3 separate regions of the Homo sapiens genome follow, and regions 1 and 2 are each reported to be linked to region 3. Evidence: microRNA targets listed by miRTarBase, many of them from high-throughput screens and not tested one by one. Region 3 holds a microRNA gene; each other region holds the end of a gene's coding sequence.
The links. The annotated mature microRNA hsa-miR-548an reads AAAAGGCAUUGUGGUUUUUG and lies in region 3 at 2,394-2,413, shown strand. An mRNA with a match to its seed (bases 2 to 7 or 8) in the 3' UTR can be bound and repressed. Matches are read on the target gene's strand: a 7mer-m8 pairs with bases 2 to 8, a 7mer-A1 pairs with bases 2 to 7 and ends in A, and an 8mer does both.

Region 1 (3,256 bases), not on the chromosome of region 3:
TATCTGTCAAATGGGGTTACTAATAGCACCTACTCTGTGGAGATCTGACAATTAAATGGGATCTGGTATAAAGCCCTAAGAATGGGTTCCTGGCCACATGGTGTGTATGGGAGGGTTTGCTCCAACTACCACCAATTCCTGTTTGCGTCCTTTCCCCAACCCCAGCAAAGTACTGGGCAACATGGTGCCAAAGGAAGATCACCAATGTCCAAGGACCTGAAATTAAGGTTCGACTCTCCAGACACACTAGGGGCAGGTTGCCCTCTTGGTAACAAGGATCTTACCCACCTCACAGGGTTGTTATAGTGGTCAAGAAAGATGGCCCATGCTATTTCCGGAGACTGCCAGCCAGCCTGGCTGCAGCAGTGGCCTGAGTGAAGCAGGCGGAGACAGTGGTGCGGAGAGCCCACATCTAGATGGGTGCCTGCCGCTCAGCAGCTCTCTTGTTGCCATGCAGGCTGACAGTTGCCAATTTTTTTTATTTCTTTTTCCCAAGAAAAGTGAGAAATCTGGATTTTTATGAGAAACCTCCTGATTTCTATGGATGGCAACTGACGCAAAGATTTTTGTGTTTGCTATTTAAACACAGTGCCACCTAAACAAAACCTTGAAGTAGGGGTGATATGCTGCATAGGCCATCAGGGTGCATGTTCTGAAGTCTTCCCTCTTCTCTAGGCCCCTTCCTGCCTTCTTACCTCTCTGCCCCCACCCTCTGCCCACCCCCGGCATGTCTGGCACCCCGTAGGGGATTTGGTCCGGGGAGTTTCTTCATGCTCCACTGAGATCAAGGGGATACAGAGCCCAAAAAGGATGACTTGTTATGAACGAAAATGACAGAGGCAAGCAGTTTAGAAAGTACCAGGTTTTATTATCTTTTTATCAAAAAAAATCAGTAACAGACAACAGTGTGAGAGGTGCCTACAGAGGAGGTGCTCACTCCAACACAGCCCAAGGGGAAGGGCACTGGGGGCAGAAGAGGACCCAGCCAGCTGGGACCCTGGGTTGCAGTGGTGACGGGAGCTAATGGCCACTGGTGCAGCAAGGGAGGGTGGTTCCCCTCACCGCAGCCACTGGGGTCAGGAGGAGACACGACCTGCCCAGGCTAAGCCACCAGGCCTCCCCTCTCAGGAGAGGGAGGGTCCCAGACAACAGGCCCCAGCTGGGGCCTCATCAGCCCTCCCCCATTCCCCCCCCCCTACCCAGGGAGACAAGGGTCGTCCCAGCACAGCTGAGGCTGTGACTCGTTAAGCCAGTTTAGTTCTCTAGAATAGTGCTGTCCAACAGATGGACATGCTCTCGCTGTCAGTACAGTAGCCATGAACTACATACAGTGACGCCTCTAGAAACGTGGTTAGTGCAACTGAGGAAGGAATTTTTAATCTTATGTGATTTTAATTGGCTTAACTTTAAACAGCCGCATGTGGTTACTGTATTGGATAGCACAGCCCTAGAGCCTGAAGAAAGCAAACCAAAGAACACCAGCTGGGTCCCAAACAGAAGGCAGAAAGGGTAGAACCATCCACCTCAACTATTCCAGCCCCATCAGAAGGCACCAGGAACAGGGCAAGAGAAAAAGGCAAAAACCCACCCAGCCACATGAAAATTCACTCACTCAACCACCCAGCAACATCAAACTGGAAACACCACACTATTTCCTGAAAAAAATATATTTATCTATTTTTCTAGAACCAAGGAAGAATAATAATATATTATAAGAACACAGACACAAATATCCCACCATCCCCTTCATTATATTTTGGGATCTGCTAAAAAAAAACTATGTTTCGGCAAAAGCTATTTTATAAGAGGAAGCAGCTTCAGAAAGGGCCAAGGCCATGAGGAGCGGGGTTTAAAGTATAAAAAAAAAACTGGGGAAGGGGTTTAATGAAAGAGAACAAAGAAAGAAGAGGGGAAGGGAGGCCCTATCTAAAGCTATAAATAGTAAAAAAAAAAAAAAAAAAAAAAAATTAATAAAAATCATCTCTCCGGCTCTTCTCTCATTTTCAAGAAACAAACAAAAACAAAAACAAAAACCATTAAATACAAACTTAGCAGGTGCTGTGGAAATGTGCGAGAGAATGAAGACACCTCGGCACCTCCACACTCTTGCCCAGGCAGAGATATACACTCTGCACAAAGGAATGAACAGTTAAAAAAACGAACAAACACTAAAAATAGATTTACAAATATTCTATAAATCCATTTCAGCATAAACTCTCAGCTCTTTTCCCCATCCTCCCCCCCAAATAAAAAAGGTTGATTTCCAAAAGTCACTTGAAAGAGCCTAGAATGGCCCCAGGTATATACCACAGAGATTCCCGTAGTGTGATCACAAGTACCCATTTACAGAAACATCTCAAGGTGCAGGTGGTTCTAGTTCCTTCCCCCATTTCCTGGCAGAGAGACCGGCTGTGAAAGGAAGGGAGGAAGGCCACTGGGGGAGGACCTCCAGCCAGGACTCCACACAACATCCGTTAGCCCCCTGGCTTCAGAGGAGCTCTGGATGAGGCATGGTCAGTATGGGCTTGAGGGCGGACCTAGATTCTTAACTGGAAGTTTAAGAAGTGATCCAATCCCAGTCTTGCCTTCAGAAAGGCCAAGTTGAATCCATTTTTCTGCCAGGGCAACTGAGGCCCAAAGCTCAAGAAGAACCTGGCAGAACAGTAGAAGACAATGTCTCTTCTGAACACTTCAAAGGTAATCAGAGCTGGAGATACTGACAAGTCAGTATTAGGTTGACCTCACCCTACCCTAATGTCCACCCTTCAAAATCCCCTGGCTTCCCTCCCCGCTAAAGTCCAAGCCAGTGCCCACAAGCAAGCTTCACGCGTAGAACTCATTGGTGGGGGCTTTCTTGTAGATGGGTTTCTTGCCCAGGTCATAGCTGCCTTCATCCTTCTTCTTCATACGGTACATGAGCAGTAGGATCAGGAAGACGGCAAAGAGGATGCCCACGATGCCACCCACAATCAGAGCTGGAGAGGAGGAGAGAGAAGAGGCGGGGGTGAGAGCTCCTCATCAGGACCTAAGGATGAACCCCTCTTTCCCCCACTGTCAGTTCTCTTACAACCAGACATCCTCACCATCACCACTGCCTGTGCCAGGCAAGCTGATGCCTTATTTAAGTTGACCTCATGACCCCAGTTATAAGAAGTGGGTCGTTGGCATTTTAAGTCACTGAAGACCACAGGGCTAGTGGTAAGGCCACTCCTTTTTCTTTTTGAGACGAAGTCTCACTCTGTTGCCCGAGCTGAGT
Region 2 (3,256 bases), not on the chromosome of region 3:
ACTACGATGGTGAGAAGTCCGCAAGGCCGCCAGGCGGCGCCCCCGCCCCACGATCGCGGCGCGCACCCCCCGCACGGGGAAGGAAGGGCTGAGCAGAGTGAGAGCTCCCGCCCCCGCAGGACCCAACACCTACGAGGACGCCGGCAACTACATCAAGGTGCAGTTCCTCGAGCTCAACATGCGGCGCGACGTGAAGGAGATCTATTCCCACATGACGTGCGCCACCGACACGCAGAACGTCAAATTTGTCTTCGACGCTGTCACCGACATCATCATCAAGGAGAACCTCAAAGACTGTGGCCTCTTCTGAGGTAGGTCGCTGCCCTCTCCAGGCTCTTGCCTCAATACCCCAGCCCCGTCCAGCTCCCCACCCCACACCACGGCCCTGGAGCCTCACCCCCAAATCCTGGAGCCTACTGCCTCCAGGCCCCACCCCAGCTCCTCAGGCTCCACCCCACCGACAGAGGCCCCGCCCCACCCCACAAGTCCCACCCATTGAATTTCTTTTGGCCCCGCCCCAAGACCTCAGGTGTCACAGCTTCCAGGGCCGCCCCACCACACACAATGCCTAAACCCATTTATTTTGGGTCTCAGGGATGCTGACTGGGTTTCCTTTTCACAGGTGCCTGAATTCATGCGTGTCAGTCACCCTGAGACCTGGTAGCCCTAGCTGCCTTGCAGCCCCAAACCCCAGGACCCTATCAGCCCCCTGGGACTCCCTGGCCCCAACCTGCCACCTCACCAAAGCTCTGAGCCCTGCTAGCCTTGAGGCGCGGACCCTCCCCCATACCTCCCACAGTATCCCAGCGCCTCATGCCCCCAACCCCAAGCCCTGCCCTTCACCGCCCGGCTGCACTGGCCTCTAGGACTCACAGCAGCCAGCCCCAGCTAGGAACGGGCAGGACTTGGGGCAGCTGAAGCTCACGGTGACTCAGCAGTGCCCAACTGACCAATCTCCCGCAGCTCTCCTGCCCCTGGGGGCCCACGACTCACCTGGTGGGCCTGGGCTCAGCAAACAGCCCTCCCTCCCAGTATTTCATCAAGGACAGGGAATATCCCTCCCACACACAGGCCAGCTGCTCACCCTGCCACCTCCATGTGACAAGTTTGACACCTGTCTACCCAGAGCCAGTGACTGTCCCTCCCAGCAGCCTCCAAAGGGTCCAAAGTCCAAGCTAGCTCTGGCCTGTGTGGCCCCCACATAAATAAATTAGTGGGGAGGGGGCAGACCTGGGGGCCCTTGGGTGCCAGAGTGAGACACAGCAGGACCCTTCCCCAAATACTAGGCTCAGAGCAACCTCCAGCCTTCTCCAGCAGGATCTGCTCCCTGTGTCCTTGGACAGCAGATCCACACACCACTTCCCCACCCACACACAGTACCCTGGGCTGGTTGGACAACAGGATGGTGTGTTAAGGGGTTAAGGGAGGGTACTGTTGACACCAGCTATGGCCAATAGCTGGGCTGTCCTGAGGGGTGGCTGGGGACAGAGTCCAGCTCCCTTGGATCAGCCCAGAGGATTCAGGATAGGACAAAGGCCCTGGCTGTGCCCAAAAGGGTCTACCTCAGGTGGGGTTACAAGCAAACCTGGGTGACCCTCTTGTCCCTACCAGCAGCTTCTCTTGCCCCTTCCATTCAGGGTTCCCTGGCAGGGGAAGCTGAGAGCCATGGCTGAACTATCAGGGACAAAGGCCCATGTCCCCACATCCCTGCTCCCTCCTTCCTCATCCAGCACCAAATCTTTGCTTATGTCCACAGGCCAGGGCCTGTGCTGCAGTCGGGGACAAGGAGCTTCCGTCTGGCAAGGCCGGGGCACAATTTGCACTCCCCTCAGCTAGACGCACAGACTCAGCAATAAACCTTTGCATCAGGCTCCAGCTGTCCTTTCTTGGTGGAGGACTTAATTATCACAAGTCATGGGCATTTATTAAGTGCCCAGTGCTGGGTTGGGCATGAAGTGGGAAGATGGCCCCTCCCAGGAAGAAGTACCTGGCCTGACAAGGTGGGGCACTCTTGGGGGTATGGGACCAACTCATGGCTTTTCACGGGAGTTGAGGAGAGAGGAGCTGTGGAAAATATTCACTGGGACAGTCTTGGATCAAGAGGGAGTTTTGAGGTGGAGGCTCATTCTGGCAGGGACCGTAGTGTCTACCAGCCCCAGAAACATGGGCTTATGGCCACAGGAGTTCAGTGGAGCAAGAGCAGGGGAGGAGAGACGTGGACAGGTGCCCAAAGCCAGTCGGAGGGCCTGGGCTTTCTCAGAAGGTGATGGAGAGTCTTGGAAGCCCTCGAGGCAGGAACATAATTGCAGGGCTGGGATTAGGGTGAGGGAAGTGAGGCACACTCACCTTGGGTGCAACATTTAAGGCGATGCCAAAAAATTTAGTAACCAAGGTAAATAATATTAGGATAATATTTTTAAAAATCAAATGAATGCAAAACCCCACAATGAATGAAATATCAAAATCCAACAGAGGATCAAACAGAGGCATGCTAAGATATATTGGGGCTTGAAGCAAAGGGAAAACTATTTGTTGCTATATGTTTGTAGGGATTTTTTGCCAGTTTTAAAAATACATGTATCATAAAGTTTACTATCTCAGCCACTTGCCGGTGTATAGTTTGGTGGTGTTAAGTACATTCATAATGTTGTACAACCACCGCAACTGTTCATCTCCAGAACTCCTTTCCTCTTGTAAAACTGTAACTCTGTACCCATGAAAAAATAACCCCCCATTCCTGCCTTCCCCCGGCTCCTGGCATCCACCATTCTACTTTCCATCTCTATGAATGTGACTGCTCTAAGTGCCTCAGATGTGTGGGTCCATGAAGTCTTTGTCTTTTTGCAACTGGCTTATTTCACTTAGCATCATGTCTTCAAGGTTTATTCATGTGTAGCATATGGCAGAATCTCCTTCCTTTTTAAGGTTGAATAATATTCCATTGTATATATTCCACACTTTGTTTATTTATTCATCTATTGATGAATGGTTACATCTGCCTTTTGGCTATTGTGAATAATGCTGCTATGAACATGGGTGTACAAATCTCTCTCCCAGCCTCTGTTTTTTATTATTTTGGGTGTATACCCAGAAATGGAACTGGCAAATCATATGGTGAATCTTTTTTTTTTTTTTTTTTTTTTGAGACAGAGTCTCTCTCTGTCGCCAGCCTGGAGTGCAGCGGCACAATTTCGGCTCCCTGCAACCTCCGCCTCCCAGGTTCAAGCAATTATCCTGCCTCAGTCTCCTGAGTAGC
Region 3 (3,227 bases):
TTCAGAAGATGTCAACCATTTGGATGGTTAGAAAAATTCAAATTATTAGTTTTTCTTCTTCCTGTGATTTCTAGCATCTTATAGCTAGCTACAGTTTAGTCCACTTAAACTCTAATACACAGTGTGTCTGATTTTCTTCTTAGGATTTATTTACTGTCTTTGGATAATTATACATAGTGAATAAGTAAACTTGACTGTTTTTTTCTTGGTGATAAAAGAGGGATTGTTTTAATAGTAAACTGTTTTTACACAAAAATTTGCATACAGATTGTTACAGTGACATTTTTATTTCTCATTTTTTATGATTTACCCTTCCCGCGAGGAGGTCATAGAGGCCAGCCGTATACGTATGATGCCAAGGTAAAAAACTTTATTCAATGGATTAGAACAAAGTCTGATTCCGGGGAACAGAAGAATATGGTTATTGGTGGATATTACCCCTATCCACCAGTGCCAGAGACATTTTCCAAGTATAGTAGTTCTATTAAAGGTACTAATGTAATTGCCAGTCCTTCTAAATATGTTTATATTTTATATGTATGGCTTATGCTATTTCAATTAGTCATCTTTATTCTTTTCTTTTATGGGAGTGATCTAAAGTTTAGCAACATTCACCGATAATAGCTTTGTCTTAATGCAGATCTAAAAATATATGTCACGTATTTTCTATATAGTTTTCCCTATATCTCGCATGGTGCTCTAAAGATTAATACTTTGATTTTTATCAGACTGGAAGAAAAGAGAAAACACAGATGATAACCAACTGGAGATATAGGTTGAGTATTCCTAATCCAAAAATCCGAAATCTGAAATGTTCCAAAACCTGAAACTTCTTTTTTTTTTTTTGAGACGGAGTCTCGCTCTGTCGCCCAGGCTGGAGTGCAGTGGCGGGATCTCGGCTCACTGCAAGCTCCGCCTCCCGGGTTCACGCCATTCTCCTGCCTCAGCCTCCCATGTAGCTGGGACTACAGGCGCCCGCCACTACGCCCGGCTAATTTTTTGTATTTTTAGTAGAGACGGGGTTTCACCGTTTTAGCCGGGATGGTCTCGATCTCCTGACCTCGTGATCCGCCCGCCTCGGCCTCCCAAAGTGCTGGGATTACAGGCGTGAGCCACCGCGCCCGGCCTAACCTGAAACTTCTTGAGTACTGAAGTGACACTCAAAGAACTACTCATTGGAGCAGTTCAGATTTTGGAATTTTGCATTAGGGAAGCTGAACTGATAAGTATAATACAAATATTCCAAAATAAAGAAAATCAGAAATCTGAAATATTCTGGTCCAATGTATTTCAGAGAAGGGATGTTCAACCTATAAATATCTTTATTTAATGTCATTGAGATCACATCTGACCTTGGTGTAGATCTCAATTGCTATGATGTTATACAGAAAGACTAAAGATATCTAAAGGAGACACTGGGTAACTTGATATTCAGAGACTGACAACTGTATTATGCGACTCTTGTGGAATGATATATATTGTGTTTAACACAATTGAGTGCTATCTTTAAATATGAAATGATGCCAAAATAAATGAGATGCTGAATTTGGAATTGAAGTACTGATGAGAAGCCTACTATTAATATACTTTTTAGTAGAATTAATATATGACAGTTGAAAAGTTTAGCACAAGCATGTTCTTTTTTAAAAAGCTATGAGATAATTGCATGGTTTTGGAAAAAAAGAGAAACTTTAAAATGCGGACCTATCATCATCTAAATATTGGCATCCTCTTATACATCATAATGCTAGCAATATGTAATAGTGTTTGAAATAATTAAAATGTGTTTTTCTATGCAGTGGCTAGGCAACACTTTATAGTTTGAAATATAATATGTAAATTGCATTTAATATGCAAAATTTATTTTGCAAATGAGGGGTACAGAGTGGAAGCCTGTATTCAAATTTAACTGATAAAAGTATTTTGCCTATTTCACAAAATTATATAGAAGGATGCCAGATATAAACACAGTGTCTCACAGTTAATGTAGTAAGTTTATAATTTTGTGTTGTGAAATTACATTGCAAATCTAATTCTTATTTTTATCATTTCAGTTCTTTAAAACTTACAATTTTCTTGGACTTTTTTGCAGTTGAGTCGCTCTTGACAGCTATAAGTGAAGTCAGGAAGGAGATTGAAGACTTGCAGTATAGGGAACAAAAGCGCATTGCAATTCAGGGGATAATTACTGCTATAAAGTATATCCCCCATAGCAGTGCGACTGAAAGTGCCTCAGCATCAGAAACACTTCGGGTATGGTGCCAGAGAATTAATAGTATTTCTCTGAAAGCACTGTGATTATGATTGCAATTGGTACCTTTTACATTTTATTCAGAACTCACGTGTATTGACTCTTAATAATGTAAGCCTAAGAGAAAACATTAGGTTGGTGCAAAAGGCATTGTGGTTTTTGCCTATAAAAGTAATGGCAAAAACCGCAATTCCTTTTGCACCAACCTAATATTTTTACTTTTTTGTTTGTTTCCTTTTTGTGTCATTTATTTGGGGGCAGACTAGGCCAATAATGATTATAGCCTCTTGACATTTCCCAAGGCCCTCAAAACTTGGTATCCTGTTTTTGCATTCTGTGTAATTTGAGGCTATTGTGGGTGTTTTAAATTTCTAGGTGGTATCTATGACTATATTAATTTCCTACCTTTTGTCCAGGCCAGTACTACAGGAAAGCTTTCATAGGAAGTTTTCTCTATATCTGGCATAGTAGTCTTACCCAGGTTCTATAACTCTTCTAGAATAAATAGTTTAGTATTATAGAAGATGCCAGTTCTGGAATATTGGCACAATCAAGACAAGTTAATTTTTCCCATGAGTTTATCTTTTTAAACACTACGTCCAGGACTACTACTATTTATATGGAAATAAGTGTTTAATCCAGCTTTTCAGATAGTAGTATAAGAAGGACTTTTGTTTGTCTTCCTTTTAAAAAATATTTTAATAGCAGATGGATTAGATTCAATCATTTTCATAAAAGCACTGTTATGATTGAAGTTTTGCCAGAACTGTTGATTATGAAAAATGAATACACTAAAATTGTAGTCTTTTATGAGATTAATAATTGTGAATTAGCCTAAAGTGTTTTCTCTAAATTATTGGTTTTAGAATGCTAACAGACCCTCGACCTCTCAAGCAGCTAGAGTAGAAATTCAAGAAAGAAATGGTAAACGGCATCAAGATGATGAGCCTGTGAATTCTCAGTATTTCCAAACTAC

Region 1: miRTarBase lists SDC4 as a target of hsa-miR-548an. Seed matches in the 3' UTR shown: 7mer-m8 at 1,573-1,579.
Region 2: miRTarBase lists GNAT1 as a target of hsa-miR-548an. Seed matches in the 3' UTR shown: 7mer-m8 at 2,997-3,003.

The regions. Positions count from the first base shown.
Region 1 is chr20:45,324,441-45,327,696 of GRCh38, forward strand. SDC4 (syndecan 4) reads right to left here. Exons shown (of 5, transcript NM_002999.4): 5 at 848-2,975. The coding sequence ends at 2,824. Among named protein-coding and RNA genes, the nearest start is that of MATN4, 18 kb to the left of the region's middle.
Region 2 is chr3:50,194,646-50,197,901 of GRCh38, forward strand. It overlaps GNAT1 (G protein subunit alpha transducin 1), which reads left to right. Exons shown (of 9, transcript NM_144499.3): 7 at 1-9; 8 at 120-311; 9 at 623-3,051. The coding sequence ends at 310. Among named protein-coding and RNA genes, the nearest start is that of GNAT1, 4.7 kb to the left of the region's middle. RefSeq lists enhancers at 1-270, 323-854 and a silencer at 77-136.
Region 3 is chrX:106,637,435-106,640,661 of GRCh38, forward strand. MIR548AN (microRNA 548an) reads left to right here and starts at 2,380; the gene lies at 2,380-2,462. It overlaps RADX (RPA1 related single stranded DNA binding protein, X-linked), which reads left to right. Exons shown (of 14, transcript NM_018015.6): 8 at 326-490; 9 at 2,093-2,253; 10 at 3,118-3,227.